4 linked regions of the Homo sapiens genome follow. The protein of the gene in region 1 purifies or fractionates together with the protein of each later gene. This does not show direct contact. Each region holds a gene or a part of one and is shown in the gene's direction. Other genes may lie near its edges.

Region 1 (3,500 bases):
ATACATGAGAGAGACTGGTAGGAAGCAGGGTGAGTGGAGTTACGTTAACCTCTGAGGATGCCATTGAGTATTTATCCATGCCTCAGTCTGGAAATAGTGGATGTTTTGTTACTAGTTCTCTGGCAAAGGCCCTACATTTTTCTTGTTCACCTAATTTATGTCTGTATCCGTAGAGGTGAGCTAGTCAGTGTTCCAGAGCTGTGTTCTCTACTGTAAGATCACTGTGCTCTTCCCACAAGGGGTAGGGAGACAGTATGAGGAGAGGCTGTTTTCTCCTTTTATAATCTCAGCATGATGTGAAGTTTGGTCTTCTTTAGGAGAGAGGCTGTGCCCCCGGCACATTCTTTGTATGTGTGTGTTGCTCTTTGTGGCAAAGTACGAAAGTTAAGTGTATCCTGTCCTGCCCGTCTCCTTTTCCTCTACTAGTCCGTAGTGCGTCTTAGCACACTAATGTGTTAGGGTTTTTCCATTTTATGGAATTAAAAATTGGAGGATGTGGTAGGATTGGTTAAAGCAGGATGCAGGAGGAGCATTGGACTTAAAAGCCCCCAGGAGCCTGCAGTTTCTGTGCTGCTGGGAGAGGGAGCACTGGTCCATGAAAGTGGCTGTCACGTTAGTTTGTGCTTTTGATTGTTCTTTTCTTAGTAAAGAGGATTTGACTTTGAAGAGGGACCTAATCTTGGGCTCTGGCTATTAGGTCTGAAGCCTAGAGCTGCAGTAAATTGTTAACAGACTCTCTCCTGGGATCAGCTACTCTACTGCTTGGGTCTCCTGGGACCAAAGTGTCAGTAAAGACATTTTATAGAAGGGAAGAGGCTTTAAAATGAAAGTGACTTGAGTGGTGGTGTTTTTATTTCCAAAATGGGATTGGCTTTTATTTCGCTTTTACCCTGGTAGCTGCCACTAGAGGTTCTGAGGCGTAATTAGGGTGGTACAGGTGGAGTGTGTTGAATTTCAGGAGAAAGACACAGATGTCATTTCATTCCCTTACTCATAAATTTCATTAAAAAGTAAAAGCCCCTTTACACTGTTGGTGGCAGTGTACATTAGTTCAACCATTGTGGAAGACAATGTGGCGATTCCTCAAGGATCTGGAAGCAGAAATACCATTTTACCCAGCAATCCCATTACTGGGTATATATCCAAAAGATTATAAATCATTCTGCTGTAAAGACACATGCACATGTATGTTTGTTGCAGCACTATTCACAATAGCAAAGACTTGGAACCAACCTAAATGTCCATCAATGATAGACTGGATAAAGAAAACGTGGCACATATACACCATGGAATACTATGTGCAGCCATGAAAAAGGATAAGTTCATGTCCTTTGCAGGGACATGGATGAAGCTGGAAACCATCATTCTCGGCAAACTAACACAGGAACAGAAAACCAAACACCACATGTTCTCACTCATAAGTGGGAGTTGAACAGTGAGAACACATGGACACAGGGAGGGGAACATCACACACCATGGCCTATTGAGGGGTGGGGGCTAGAGGAAGAATAGCATTAGGAGAAATACCTGAGGTAGATGATGGGTTGATGGGTGCAGCAAACCACCATGGCACGTGTATACCTACGTAACAAACCTGCACGTTCTGCACATGTATCCCAGAACTTTAAGTATAATAATAAAAAAAAGTAAAAGCCCTGCATGAATTAGTTAACCTCATTCAGTAACTCTGAAATACTCCAGAGCACAAGAAAATATATTTAGCCCCAGCACGGTAGCTTACGCCTTTAATCCCAGCACTTTGGGAGGCCAGGGTGGGCAGATCACCTGAGGTCAGGAGTTTGAGACCAGCCTGGCCAACATAGTGAAACACCCCATCCCTACTGAAAACACAAAAACTGGCCAGGTGTGGTGGCGTGCCCCTGTAATCCCAGCTGCTAGGGAGGCTGAGACAGAATCGCTTGAACCCAGGAGGCGGGGGTTGTAGTGAACCAAGATTGTGCCACTGCACTCTAGTCTGGGCAACAGAGCGAGACTCTGTCTCAAAAGAAAAAAAAAAAAAAAAAGAAAATACATTCAATGCTTGCCAGCAATTTACCTGTTTATTTTTCTGATGTTTGTCTCTCTCCTAGTGGCTCACCTATATATTGACACTGCCTTTAGAATTTGGGTGTCGTGGCTTCATTGTTGCATCTGTGCTCCTCTTTCCCTACTAAATGTCCTTTATCAGGGACGGAGCCAGCAGCATTTGCTTGTTCTCAGCAATCTGAGTCTCTGGTCTTCCTTGTTCCCTGTTTGGGGGCTTCTGCATTGCCATTTGGTGGTGGTGGTGGTGGTGGCAGTGATGTATCTGTGTTTGCTTCTGTCTGTTCCAGCTCACTTAAGGTGTGATTGCTAAGTGAATGCTGCACCCTACTTTCATCTTGATTTTTAATATATTAAAATAAAATCTTTACTATTGTTTCTCTTTTTGAATTAATAGGTATTCAAAATAAACTCTCAGATAAACTCTCAAATTTTCAAAAACATGGACATAAGAAGATAAAGGCACAAATGGGGCCAAAGAAGTCCACAATTTGTTTTTTCTTGATTTCTGTATTAGTTGAATCTTGTGCAATGATTATATATTCTTATGAAATTATAAAAAAAGAATAGAGGAAAATATTAAGAACATTTGTCAGTGTCACCTCTTAAGGAGAATACAACCTTACAAAACACAGGTTAAATGGTATTAACTGGGTTTCTTAACTGATATTTTATAAATTCTTCTTCCTTTTGGGAGAAAGCACTACAGACCTACCAGTTTCCTCACCCCAGGTGCTAATGTGTGACATCTTACCGCCTCTCCTGGTCACCAGTCCAAGTGAGAGGCCCCCTTTTCGTTTCTCCTTGACCTTCTGTGTTCCAGGCCTCCTCTTCTGGTTTGATGTCCCGTCTGTGCTGCCTGGTCTCCCCTCCCCAGCTGGAGGAGTGACTCTCTGTAGTGATCAGGACTCTCTGTATTGTAGGTGGCAGATGCCTTTGTGTTCCTTGCTGACCTGCCTGGGCCTCAACGTCTTGTTCCTCACTTTGAATGAGGGTAAGAACTGCCTTCAGGGGCCAGTGGTTTTTGTGAACGAATGTGGGGGAAGAACACCTGGATGCAGCCCCACCCTATGTGTGGGAGCTGCTCTTGTTGCCCTGGAGTTAGTGTTCCTCTGTGTCTGCTTGGAGTCAGAAACAGCCTCCAGAGGGACGATCCAGGCTGAGCTGCCTGCTGTGACCTTGGGCAGATTATTGAACTTCCCTGTTAAGGCCTAATTTTCCTTACCTCTAGAGGGAGGATAAAAATGACGCTTTCCTCCTAGAGTATTTGTGAGGAATGCGGCAGTCTAGGCATAATACTTAGCACAGTGCCTGGCGTGGAAGAGGCAGCCAGTGCATTGTAGCTGCTCTCAGTATTATCGTTGTTTCCTTCTTGACTTCCTGCTGAGGATGCATTGACCTTTTTCCATTTTGGTTTTTAAGCTGATTCAAGGGTCATCTGGGGACATGGCATGAGT
Region 2 (3,500 bases), on another chromosome or scaffold:
TTGCAGCTACACTAGTTGAGCCTTTTGGATTGGATTTAACCTCCCCCAGCTCCTCAGAAGGGGTCTTAGGGCTTAGATTTATTTGCTTTCTAGATAATGGTGATACTAGTGATGTTATGGGCACCATGGGTCCGCCCGTAGGGAATCGGGAAAACCTGGCTGAGGAACTCTTTCCGTGGCTCAGCCAGCTAGCAGGCGCCGTTAGTGCATGTACAGAGGCGGGAGACTCCCGAGAAGATGCTGCGCTTCCTGGCTGTGCCATCCCCGCAGCAGTGGCCCTGTGGTGTGGGGAGTGACTACATCCTTTTCATCAGGGAGTCTGTGCTCAGAGGCCAAGTGTCTGCCCAAGCTGTCCCCAGAGTTCAAACTCAGATTTTGAGACTCTGGAGTCCACGTGCTCTGGGCTCCTGCAGGTCACCTCCATCCCCAGAGTGACCTCTGCTGACCAGAAACCCTGGACCCAGGCCCAGAGAGTAGGGCTAGGAACCAGATCGGGGGTGGACATGGAGGATGGGAGGAGGCCCTCACCTGCGCCGGCTTCCCGGTGGCTGGTTCCTTGAGCAGGGCCCTAGCCTTGCCCCGGGCACCAAGGTCTCCAGGACCTGGCCCTGCCCATCTCCTCAGCCACCTCTCTAGTGCGCAGCCCCTTGCACCTGTCCACCCTCTGCCTCGGGGCCTTGGTGCAAGCTGCCCCCTCTGCCTGTCGAGCCTCTCATCTCCGGCACCCACCTGATGGTCCTGGCTCGAGAAGCTTCCTTGTGTGCATCTCCTGTCTCCCGCCTCCATCGTGCCCTGCCACACCATTCCTCCCTTCCTCCCTCCCTTCCTCCACATGCTCATATCACATACGGCATTGCGCTGGCTGCATCTCCTATATGTTCTGCCCCCCGCCCCGCGCAGACAGCAGTCCCCTGGGAGCAGGACACGTAGCCACCCCCCATCTCCTCCATCTCCTCTATCCTTCCATCCCCTCCATCCCTTCGTCCCTCCATCCCCTCCGTCCCTCCATCCCTCCGTCCTCTCCGTCTCCTTCATCCTCTCTGTCCCTCCATCCGGTACAGTTCCGTCTGCCAGAGGCAGGGCTTGCTTCATGCCTTCTGTGCTCCTCCTCCACACTCAACCTCCTTTTCCCCCCAACAGGCCACCCTGCAGTTCTGTGTGGTGAAGCCACTCATGGCGGTCAGCACTGTGGTCCTCCAGGCCTTCGGCAAGTACCGGGATGGGGACTTTGAGTAAGCAGCGGGTGCTCCCCGGGGTGTGTGGGAGGAGTGTTGGCGCAGGCTGGTGCCTTGGCTCAGGGAAGGGGGCAGCCAGAGTGGCCGCACAGCCATGACCTTCCTGGGTGTCTGGTGCTCACAACCCCCCTGAAGTCTGAGCCCAGCAGTGGACACCCTTGCAGTTGGCCCCGCTGCCAGCCCCGGAGTGAGCCATTGGCAGCAGTCACGTTCATGTCCAGGCTGCAGAGTGGTACCATGAAGGGATGGGCCACAAAGGGACAGTGACCACTGCTGAGGCAGGGAGCGAGAGGGTCAGAGCCCCAAGAGGTCGGCTCAAGTCCACAGATACAAAGCCCGTGCTGTGTAAATTGTCCACACCCATTTCATTCTGGGCTTAGTGAAAGTGACCCCGTGGCTGGGCACAGTGGTTCACGCCTGTAATCCTAGCACTTTGGGAGGCCAACGCGGGTAGATCACCTGAGGTCAGGAGTTCAAGACCAGCCTGGCCAACATGGTGAAACCCCATCACTACTAAAAATACAAAAAATTAACCGGGCGTGGTGACGGGTGCCTATAATCCCAGCTACTCGGGAGGCTGAGGCAGGAGAATCGCTTGAACCCAGGAGGCAGAGGTTGCGGTGAGCCAAGATCACGCCATTGCACTCTAGCCTGGGTGACAAGAACAAAACTCCATATCTAAAAAAAAAAAAAAAAAAAGTGACCATGTGTCTAGCCCTGTGCTTTCAAGCTCTCGGCACACACTGTCTGTGAACTGTGTAACAGCCCTGCCAGGGCAGGTGGGCAAAAGGAGGTCAGGGGGATGCAGCCGACCGAGTGAAAAGGCAGCAGAGCTGAGCAGCGTCACCTATTTTGACGCCTGTTATCTGAGTGTCAGGCTATGGCCTCGGGCCCGGCCCTGGCTTCCACACTGGTGTCCAACGTTAGGAGTGTGGGCACCAGGGCTTAGACAAGTCCACGAGCCACGCAGAGGCAGTAGAGCTGGTCTGGCCTGCAGGCGCACCCCATGTACCCCCACCCCTGTCTGTCGCTTTGATCACCCATTCTGACCCCTTCAGTGGCTCGTTGAGCTCTGCTGGAGGTGTGGGGCTGAGAGCCATGGGGACTGTGTGTGGTGCAGTCGAGGAGAGCCCCTTCCCTCCAAGGGTCTGTCCCAGCCAGAAAATGCTCCCCGTCCCGCAGCGTCACCAGTGGCTACCTCTACGTGACCATCATCTACAACATCTCCGTCAGCCTGGCCCTCTACGCCCTCTTCCTCTTCTACTTCGCCACCCGGGAGCTGCTCAGCCCCTACAGCCCCGTCCTCAAGTTCTTCATGGTCAAGTCCGTCATCTTTCTTTCCTTCTGGCAAGGTGAGCCCCCTCCCAGCACCTGGAGGCTGCCCATGCCACCCTGTCCTCTGCGCTTCCTGCTGCCCCTTCTGCTTATGGTCCCTGGTGCCTGTAGGGCCTGTTCAGAGGGGCCTCAGCCCACTGGGCACTTGCTGGGGGTGAAATCTGAGCCCTCGAGGGCCTTTCCCAGGGGCTAGGGAGAGCTTTGGTGGGGCCGCTACATGGATGAGAGGGCCCAGGAGACCCTGCGTAATTGCTGGCATCTCAGTTTCGGTGGCAAAGAGCTGGGAGAGTGGGGTTTCCGGAGGCTGTGGCCTTGTGTCGCTACCCCTGCCCTGCAGGAGCAGCTGTGGCCCTGCTCACATCCTCACTGGGGCATGTGGGCAGCTGAATGGGGCATTGTGGAAGAAGGGGGAGCAGGAAAGGAATCATTCTGGGTCCAGACACCCGTGCCTCCCCATCCAGGCATGCTCCTGGCCATCCTGGAGAAGTGTGGGGCCATCCCCAAAATCCACTCGGCCCGCGTGTCGGTGGGCGAGGGCACCGTGGCTGCCGGCTACCAGGACTTCATCATCTGTGTGGAGATGTTCTTTGCAGCCCTGGCCCTGCGGCACGCCTTCACCTACAAGGTCTATGCTGACAAGAGGCTGGACGCACAAGGTATGAGCCAGGGTCCTAGGCGACCCCCGCTGGGAGAAGCAGGGAGCCCCAAACATCCCAGGACCCTCCCACCTCCCAGCATCCTACAGGTGCGGCTGGGTCAGGACATGGGATCCCCACTCTATATGCAGGAATGGGGCCACAGAGGTCGGGGAAGAGCAGGTGCCACCAGCACGACCGATTCGGTCCTGGAAGCTCAGGCCACCTGTCCCTTGCAGCAGGTCCAAGTGTGGCGGTCCAGGGCTGATACAGACAGAGACTGTAATGAATAGAC
Region 3 (3,500 bases), on another chromosome or scaffold:
CCCAGGTTCGATCATCGCCTAGGAGAACTCACAGGTCTCGGGACATAGTCATGCTTATAGCTCTGACTTATTAGGGGGCAAGGATACAAAGCAGTTAGCCAAGGCAGAAGGCATCAGGGTGAAGTCCAGAGGAAAGCAGGTGTGCTGCCAGGGTCCTCTCCCAGTGGATTCACGCAGGGTGCACTTCATTCCCCCAGCAAGGAGTTGTGACAACACAAGTGAAGGGTTGTCTTCCAGCCCCGCACCAGGGATTGGTGGCTGGTCACATCACCCTCTGCTCTGCATCGAAATCTCAGGCTTGCAGAAGAAAGCAGGTGTTCAGCATAAACCACACTGTTTGTGCAAACAGTTGAGGCACAGTGAGCCCCCCTTGTCACCTTCAGGGAACGATAGGAACCTTCCCCAAGTCCAAGTTCCCAGAGGCCAGCCAAGGGCTGTCCTTGCAAGCAAGCAGGTCTCCTTTCTCAGAAGAGCAGTGTGGGGCCTGCTGTGCTGACTTCCTGCACACCATTTCATTACCCCTCCCGTATCTGATTCCAAGGCCCAATTCTAACAACCTCAGGTGGCCCATTGAGATTTGCTGCTGGTGAGCAGCCAGTTCTGGGAGCATCGTTGTCTAAACTCCAGAAGGCTGCTGACTTTGTCCCAAGGGCAAGTTTGATGGAGGGATTACAGGGAGCAGAGGACTGGAGTGTCCGTCAGGACCAAGCCTGACTGCCTCACCAGCTGCCTGGGGCTGGTGGATTTCTCCAGGAGAAATTGATGCTGGGAGTGTTTCTTCTCTGTGGTCAAGTTCAGCACTTGGGGCTCCCCTCGGGACTGTGTTGAGACTGGACTCTCATGCATGAATCATTGATTCCTACACTTGTTGAGCTCTTACTCTTCACCAGGTCCTGAGGGATCAGATGAGACCCTCCTCAGGCCCCGGCCCCAGCCATTGTCTCATCCCCTGCCCATTTTAAGCCCCCATTTGGAAGAGCTCTAAATCTGGTCCAGCTCACTGAAGCTTCAGGAGTAGGAGCAGCTCGTAGAGTTGGGTCTGCAAGCAGCTGCCTCATCCCCGACTTGCCATCACCTTACAGGATGACCGTGCCCATCAGCATCACCAACCCTGACCTGCTGAGGCACAGCACAGAGCTCTTCATGGACAGCGGCTTCTCCCCACTGTGCCAGCGCATGGGAGCCATGGTAGCCTTCAGGAGATTCGAGGACTTCACCAGGTACCCAGCATGGCCCGGTCTCCAACACCCTGAGCATGGGGGCTGGGCAGACTTCCCTTGAATCCCCCCCCAATTCACTGGACAGATGGGGTGGGAGAGACCCAGACACGTGGCACAGCATGTCAATAACAACAGAATAATAATAGCATTGTAGCCAAGAGTATGAGCCTACATGTCAGCTTGCCTGGCACAGCACATCAATAACAACAGAATAATAAGAGCATCGTAGCCAAGAGTGTGAGCCTGCGTGTCAGCTTGCCTGGTTTGAATTCTGGCTATGTGCTTTCTAACTAAGAGACTGAGCAAAATATTTTTACCTCTCCATACCTTCGTTTTCTTATCTGTAAAATGGGAATAATAAAGGACTCACTTCATAGGTGCGCCATGAGAATTAAATGAGATAACATATGTGAAATAACATATTTAAAGTATAATTAGTATGCAGATAATATAGTGACTAAATGTTAGCTCTCAATAGTTACTGTTATAGTCTTTTTTCAGCCTTTCACTGTGTGTTCTGCTTTGTGCTTGGAGTATCTTGTGGAATTTTCACAACAGCCTCATGAGGCATAGGGATTACTCTTATTACCTTTCTTTGACTCGGGGTGAGGTGAGGTTTCTAGGATCTCCCAGCCAGTAAAAATGGGAGCCAAGAGTTGATCTCAAGCCCAGCTGATGCCTGAAAGCGCTGGAATCCTTCCCTGTATTCCTGATCACAGATCACTTAGGTTCATTCTTCCCTTTTGGGAAGGACCCCATCACGGGTGCTCTGGACAAAGTAGACAGGGAACCTCCTGAGCTCTGTAGAGTTGGATAAGATCAAAGGGTGTTGGCTGGGAAATTGGGAGGGTCTGGCGTTCCCTGCTGCCTGGCTTGGAAGCTTGACCTCATCCCCATGGGTCAGCAGCCCCTCAGCCCTCCCTCTCTACCCGCACCCCCAGAAATTTTGATGAAGTCATCTCTTGCTTCGCCAACGTGCCCAAAGACACCCCCCTCTTCAGCGAGGCCCGCACCTCCCTATACTCCGAGGATGACTGCAAGGTAAGCGTCTAAGCCCAGGGAGCAACCTGGGGAGCAGGTGGGCCGTGGCCCCCAGGCTTTCCAGCCCTACCCCTTGCTTCTCCCTCTCAGAGCCTCAGAGAAGAGCCCATCCACATTCTGAATGTGTCCATCCAGTGTGCAGACCACCTGGAGGATGAGGCACTGGTGCCGATTTTACGGACATTCGTACAGTCCAAGGTACTCTGGGCGTGCCTCTGGTTTTGGTGGGGGTTCTTGGAGAAGGAGGAGGGGCTGGGCTCGTCGAGGCGGCCCTTGGGGAGGCAGGCGTGCTGAGTACTTCAGAGCCACAGACCTGGCTTCCCACTCTAGCTCTGCTCGCCTCATAGCTGGCGACCTTGGGCAGATGTGGCTGAACGTGGGGTCAGCATTTCTCTCGCTCACGGTGTTGCAATGATTCAATGACAAAGTATATACACGGCTTAGCCAGTCCCAGGTACGGAGGGCACACCCAATAAATAGTTTGGAGATTTTCTGGGAGTGTTTTTGTTGGAATAATCCAGAAACTGGCAGTTTTAAAATGGCTACTTACATTGATGACCAAGTGTGCCAATAACAGCAGGTTGCTCTGTAAGCCTGTGATGCCATTGTATTTCAGCCTGGGGGACAGAGCGAGACCCTGTCTCAAAAAAAATTATATATATTTACAGTATACAATGTGATATTTTTTAATTATCTTTTTAATAACAGCTTTATTGAGACATCATTGACATACTACACAATTCACCCATTTAAAGTGTGCAGTTTTGCAGCCATAAAAAAGAATGAGATCATGTCCTTTGCGGGGACATGGATGAAGCTGGAAGCCATCATCCTCAGCAAACTAACACAAGAACAGAAAACCAAACACCGCATGTGCTCACTCATAAGTGGGAGCTGAACATTGAGAACACATGGGCAGAGGGAGGGTAACAACGCACACCGGGGCCTGTCGGGGGGTGGGGGCCGAGGGGAGGGAACTTAGAGGACAGGTCGGTAGGTGCAGCAAACCACCATGGCACATATATACCTGTGTAACAAGCCTGCACGTTCTGCACATGTATCCTGTTTTTTTTTTTAGAAGAAATAAGAAAAAAAGTGTACAATTTAATATATTTTTAGTATATTCACCAGGTTGTACAACCATCACCAGAATCAATTTTAGGACATTCTCATCACTCCATAGAAAAACCCTGTACCTGTTAGCAGTCACTCCCCTCTGTCCCCAACCCAAAAACCCTC
Region 4 (3,500 bases), on another chromosome or scaffold:
GTCCTTTCTCCTCGGCCTCCCAAAGTGCTGGGATTACAGGCGTGAGCCACCACGCCTGGCCTACTTCATTTCTTTTTAAAATCTTTATTTTAGAAATTTCAAACATACCAAAATAGAACGTAATGACCTCCTATTATCCAACTACAGTAATCACTCATGGCCATTCATGTTTCATTTATACCCTCCCATTTCCCATCACTTTCTTCACCTGCACCCTCCGCACAATTAATTTGAAGCAAATCACAGATCTTATATCATTTTTTCTATAAACATTTCATTTTCTTACTCTAAAAATACTCTAAAAGCAAATGTTCACACCATTATCACCTTAAAAATGTAATAATTTCTTTCTTTTTTTTTTTTTTTTTTTGAGACAGGGTCTCACCTTTTGCCCAGGCTGGAGTGCAGTGGTGCAGTCTCAGCTCATTGCAACCTCTGCCTCCCAGGTTCAAGCGATTCTCCTGCCTCAGCCTCCGAAGTAGCTGAGATTACAGGCACCCGCCACCATGCCCAGCTAATTTTTAGTAGAAACAGGGTTTCACTATGTTGGCCAGGCTGGTCTCAAACTCCTGACCTTGTGATCCGCCTGCCTCAGCCTCCCAAAGTGCTGGGATTACAGGCGTGAGCCACCACGCCCTGCCAACACTCCCATTTTTAAGTCACGTCTTAGGTGCCCATTCCCTACCCCACTTGATTATTAGCTTTTTGTGGTTATTTTTTCTTTTAGGTAAAATGTACATATATTAAGATGCACACAAATCTTAGCTATATGACGAATGGCAATACCTGTGTAACCCACACCTTTACCGTGTTATAGATTTCCTTTGCCCCAGAAAGTTCCTCATGTTCCTTTCCACTTAATCTCCTCACCCCGTCCCTGAAAGCACCCAGTGCTCTGATTTTTCTCTCCTTAGTTTTGCTTGTTCTAAAACTTCATATAAATTGAATCATATAGTATATATACTTTCTAATCTGGCTTCTTTTACTGAACTGTTAGTGAGATTCATCCATGTTACTGTTCTTTTTTTATTCTGTTTTATTATGTAGTACTCTATTATACGGCTGTACCACAGTTTATCTATTCTCTTTTATGGACATTGGGTTTGTTTCCAGTTTTGGATTATTGTGAATAAAACTGCTATAAACATTTTTGTACTTGCTTTTTTGTGGGCAAATGTTTTCATTTCTCTTGTATAAATACCTAGGAGTGGAATTGCTGGGTGAAACGGTAGCTGCATGTTTAATTTCATAAGAAATTGTAAAACCTTTTCCCCCAGTGATTGTACCATTTTATAGTCCCACCAGCAGTGAGAGGTCTAGTTGCTCTGCAGTGTCACCAACATTTGGTGTTTTTAATTTTAGCCATTCTAGGGGGTGTCTGTTGGTTCTCATTGTGATTTTAATTTGCATTTCCTTGATGACTAAACATGTTCAGAACTTTTTCATTTGATTATTGATATTTGTTTATATAACCTTATAAAGTATCAAGTCTTTTACCCATATACTGATTGTTTTAGTCAGTTTTATTATTTAGATATATAGTTCATTTTCATCACATAATTTTTAGAGTAATTTAAAAGTATACTTGCATTATATTTAGTAACAAAAACAAGATTAATCTGAATTCATGTGTCTCTATCTCTTTGGGTAAGACATGTTAGATTCCAGTTTGATTAAAAAAAAAAAACAAAAAACCTTGTAGTGACCTGTTATTACTCTTCTTGCCTTGAAACCTGCAGCTACTCTATTGTGCCTTCCCAATTTTTCAGTATTTGAGACTTCTCCTGGTTTTTTTTCCCAAAAGCATTTTGGAGACAAAAGGAAATCCAAACCCATTTTACCTGAACCCAACCACTCACATGATCTCTGATGTTCTCCCCAGAATGGTGTTGTACTGTCTGTTGTCATTCATTCAGTGTATCCAGACTTGAGTATCCTTAGAGGTCCATATGCCCCATTTATGAGAATGAAATTTAATCAGAGGGAAGACTATTGAAAATTTGTTTATTTATGTATTTTTTTTGAGATGGAGTCTCGCTCTGTTGCCCAGGCTGGAGTGCAGTGGTGCAATCTTGGCTCACTGCAACACCTTTGGCCTCCCAGGCTCAAGTGATTCTCCTGCCTCAGCCTCCTGAGTAGCTGGCACTACAGGTGTGTGCCACCACACCTGGCTAATTTTTGTATTTTTGGTAGAGATGGGGTTTCACCGTGTTGGTCAGGCTGGTCTCAAACTCCTGACCTCAAGTGATCTCCCTGCCTCGGCCTCCCAAAATGCTGGGATTACAGGCATGAGCCACCGCGCCTAGCTGAGAATTTACTTTTTATGGTGTTTTAGCTGTAGCAGTCAACTTGAGCATCCTACCAAAGCAAGTTGTTAATGCATATGTGATGAACACGCCAATGTAACAAAAACGTATTCTTTTTTTTACAGAAGCTGCCAGTAACTCAGATTCTAGCCATGAAGGTCAAGAGGAATCTTCAAAGGAAAATGTGTCATCAAATGCTGCCTGCCCTGACCACACCCCAACACCTAATGATGATGGCAAATCACATGAACTGTCTAACCTTCGACTGGAGAATCAGCTGCTGAGGAATGAAGTTCAGTCTTTAAATCAAGAAATGGCCTCGTTACTCCAAAGATCCAAAGAGACTCAAGAAGGTAGAGGCTTAAATTGTTCAGGATTAGGAATTTAACTTTTAAAAATAAACTTAAGGCTGGACGCAGTGGCTCGTGCCTGTAATCCCAGCACTTTGGGAGGCCGAGGCGGGCGGATTGCCTGAGGTCAGGAGTTCAAGACCAGTCTGGCCAACATGGTGAAACCCTGTGTCTACTAAAAATACAAAAAAATTAGTCAGATGTGGTTGCAGGCACCTGTAATCCCAGCCACTCAGGAGGCTGAGGCAGGGGAGTTGCTTGAACCAGGGAGGTGGAGGTTGCAGTGAACCGAGATTGCACTACTGCACTCTAGTCTGGGCAGCAGAGCAAGACTCTATCTCAAAAATAAATAAATAAAAATAAAATAAAATAATAAACTTAAAAACTTTAAACTGTTAGAAATATTTACATTTAAACTGTGAGAAATTAGATGCGACTTGTAAAATGATATTTTCATAGAAAAACTGCCCAGATTTGGAAATGGGACCAGTCATCCTCCCACCAACCCAAAACATAAGAGTATTCGCTTCTTTGGTCATCCTTTAAGAACCATGAAATTGAAGAACTGAGAGGAACAAACTAGTAGTAGTCTAGTTCATTCATTTATTCTGAACTTTCAAGGGAAGCTGTTCCATTAAACAAAGTAGTAGGCACTAATAGAGTTGCAGTGTTGCTGCTCTAGGGCATATAAAAGGTACATGGAATTCAGTTCAGTGCCCTTGGGAATTGTGCAGTGAGGTGGCCCTGGAGTAGAAAACCTCAAGTTCCTCAGAAATAGGTAATTAAGAAGGAAATAATCTCATTATGGAGGTAGTGACTGAGGAAGATGTGAATGTTATTGTAA

What was found. Proteins that work in one complex are often made in the same cells at the same time.
Region 2: the proteins of ZFYVE27 (region 1) and TMEM184B purify together in Homo sapiens (affinity purification with mass spectrometry; one large-scale study listed by BioGRID and IntAct). This does not show direct contact.
Region 3: the proteins of ZFYVE27 (region 1) and ACACB purify together in Homo sapiens (affinity purification with mass spectrometry; one large-scale study listed by BioGRID and IntAct). This does not show direct contact.
Region 4: the proteins of ZFYVE27 (region 1) and GOLGA5 purify together in Homo sapiens (affinity purification with mass spectrometry; 2 studies listed by BioGRID and IntAct, with this or other methods). This does not show direct contact.

The regions. Positions count from the first base shown.
Region 1 is NC_000010.11:97,740,128-97,743,627, forward strand, and holds part of ZFYVE27 (protrudin), read left to right. Parts: intron 1-2,966; coding exon 2,967-3,037; intron 3,038-3,465; coding exon of another isoform or gene 3,466-3,500. UniProt on the Homo sapiens protein: Key regulator of RAB11-dependent vesicular trafficking during neurite extension through polarized membrane transport. Promotes axonal elongation and contributes to the establishment of neuronal cell polarity.
Region 2 is NC_000022.11:38,224,511-38,228,010, reverse strand, and holds part of TMEM184B (transmembrane protein 184B), read left to right. Parts: intron 1-1,140; coding exon 1,141-1,232; intron 1,233-2,417; coding exon 2,418-2,587; intron 2,588-3,031; coding exon 3,032-3,226; intron 3,227-3,290; exon of another isoform or gene 3,291-3,500. UniProt on the Homo sapiens protein: May activate the MAP kinase signaling pathway.
Region 3 is NC_000012.12:109,231,587-109,235,086, forward strand, and holds part of ACACB (acetyl-CoA carboxylase 2), read left to right. Parts: intron 1-1,082; coding exon 1,083-1,220; intron 1,221-2,161; coding exon 2,162-2,261; intron 2,262-2,351; coding exon 2,352-2,459; intron 2,460-3,500. UniProt on the Homo sapiens protein: Mitochondrial enzyme that catalyzes the carboxylation of acetyl-CoA to malonyl-CoA and plays a central role in fatty acid metabolism.
Region 4 is NC_000014.9:92,804,305-92,807,804, forward strand, and holds part of GOLGA5 (golgin subfamily A member 5), read left to right. Parts: intron 1-2,431; coding exon 2,432-2,659; intron 2,660-3,500. UniProt on the Homo sapiens protein: Involved in maintaining Golgi structure. Stimulates the formation of Golgi stacks and ribbons. Involved in intra-Golgi retrograde transport.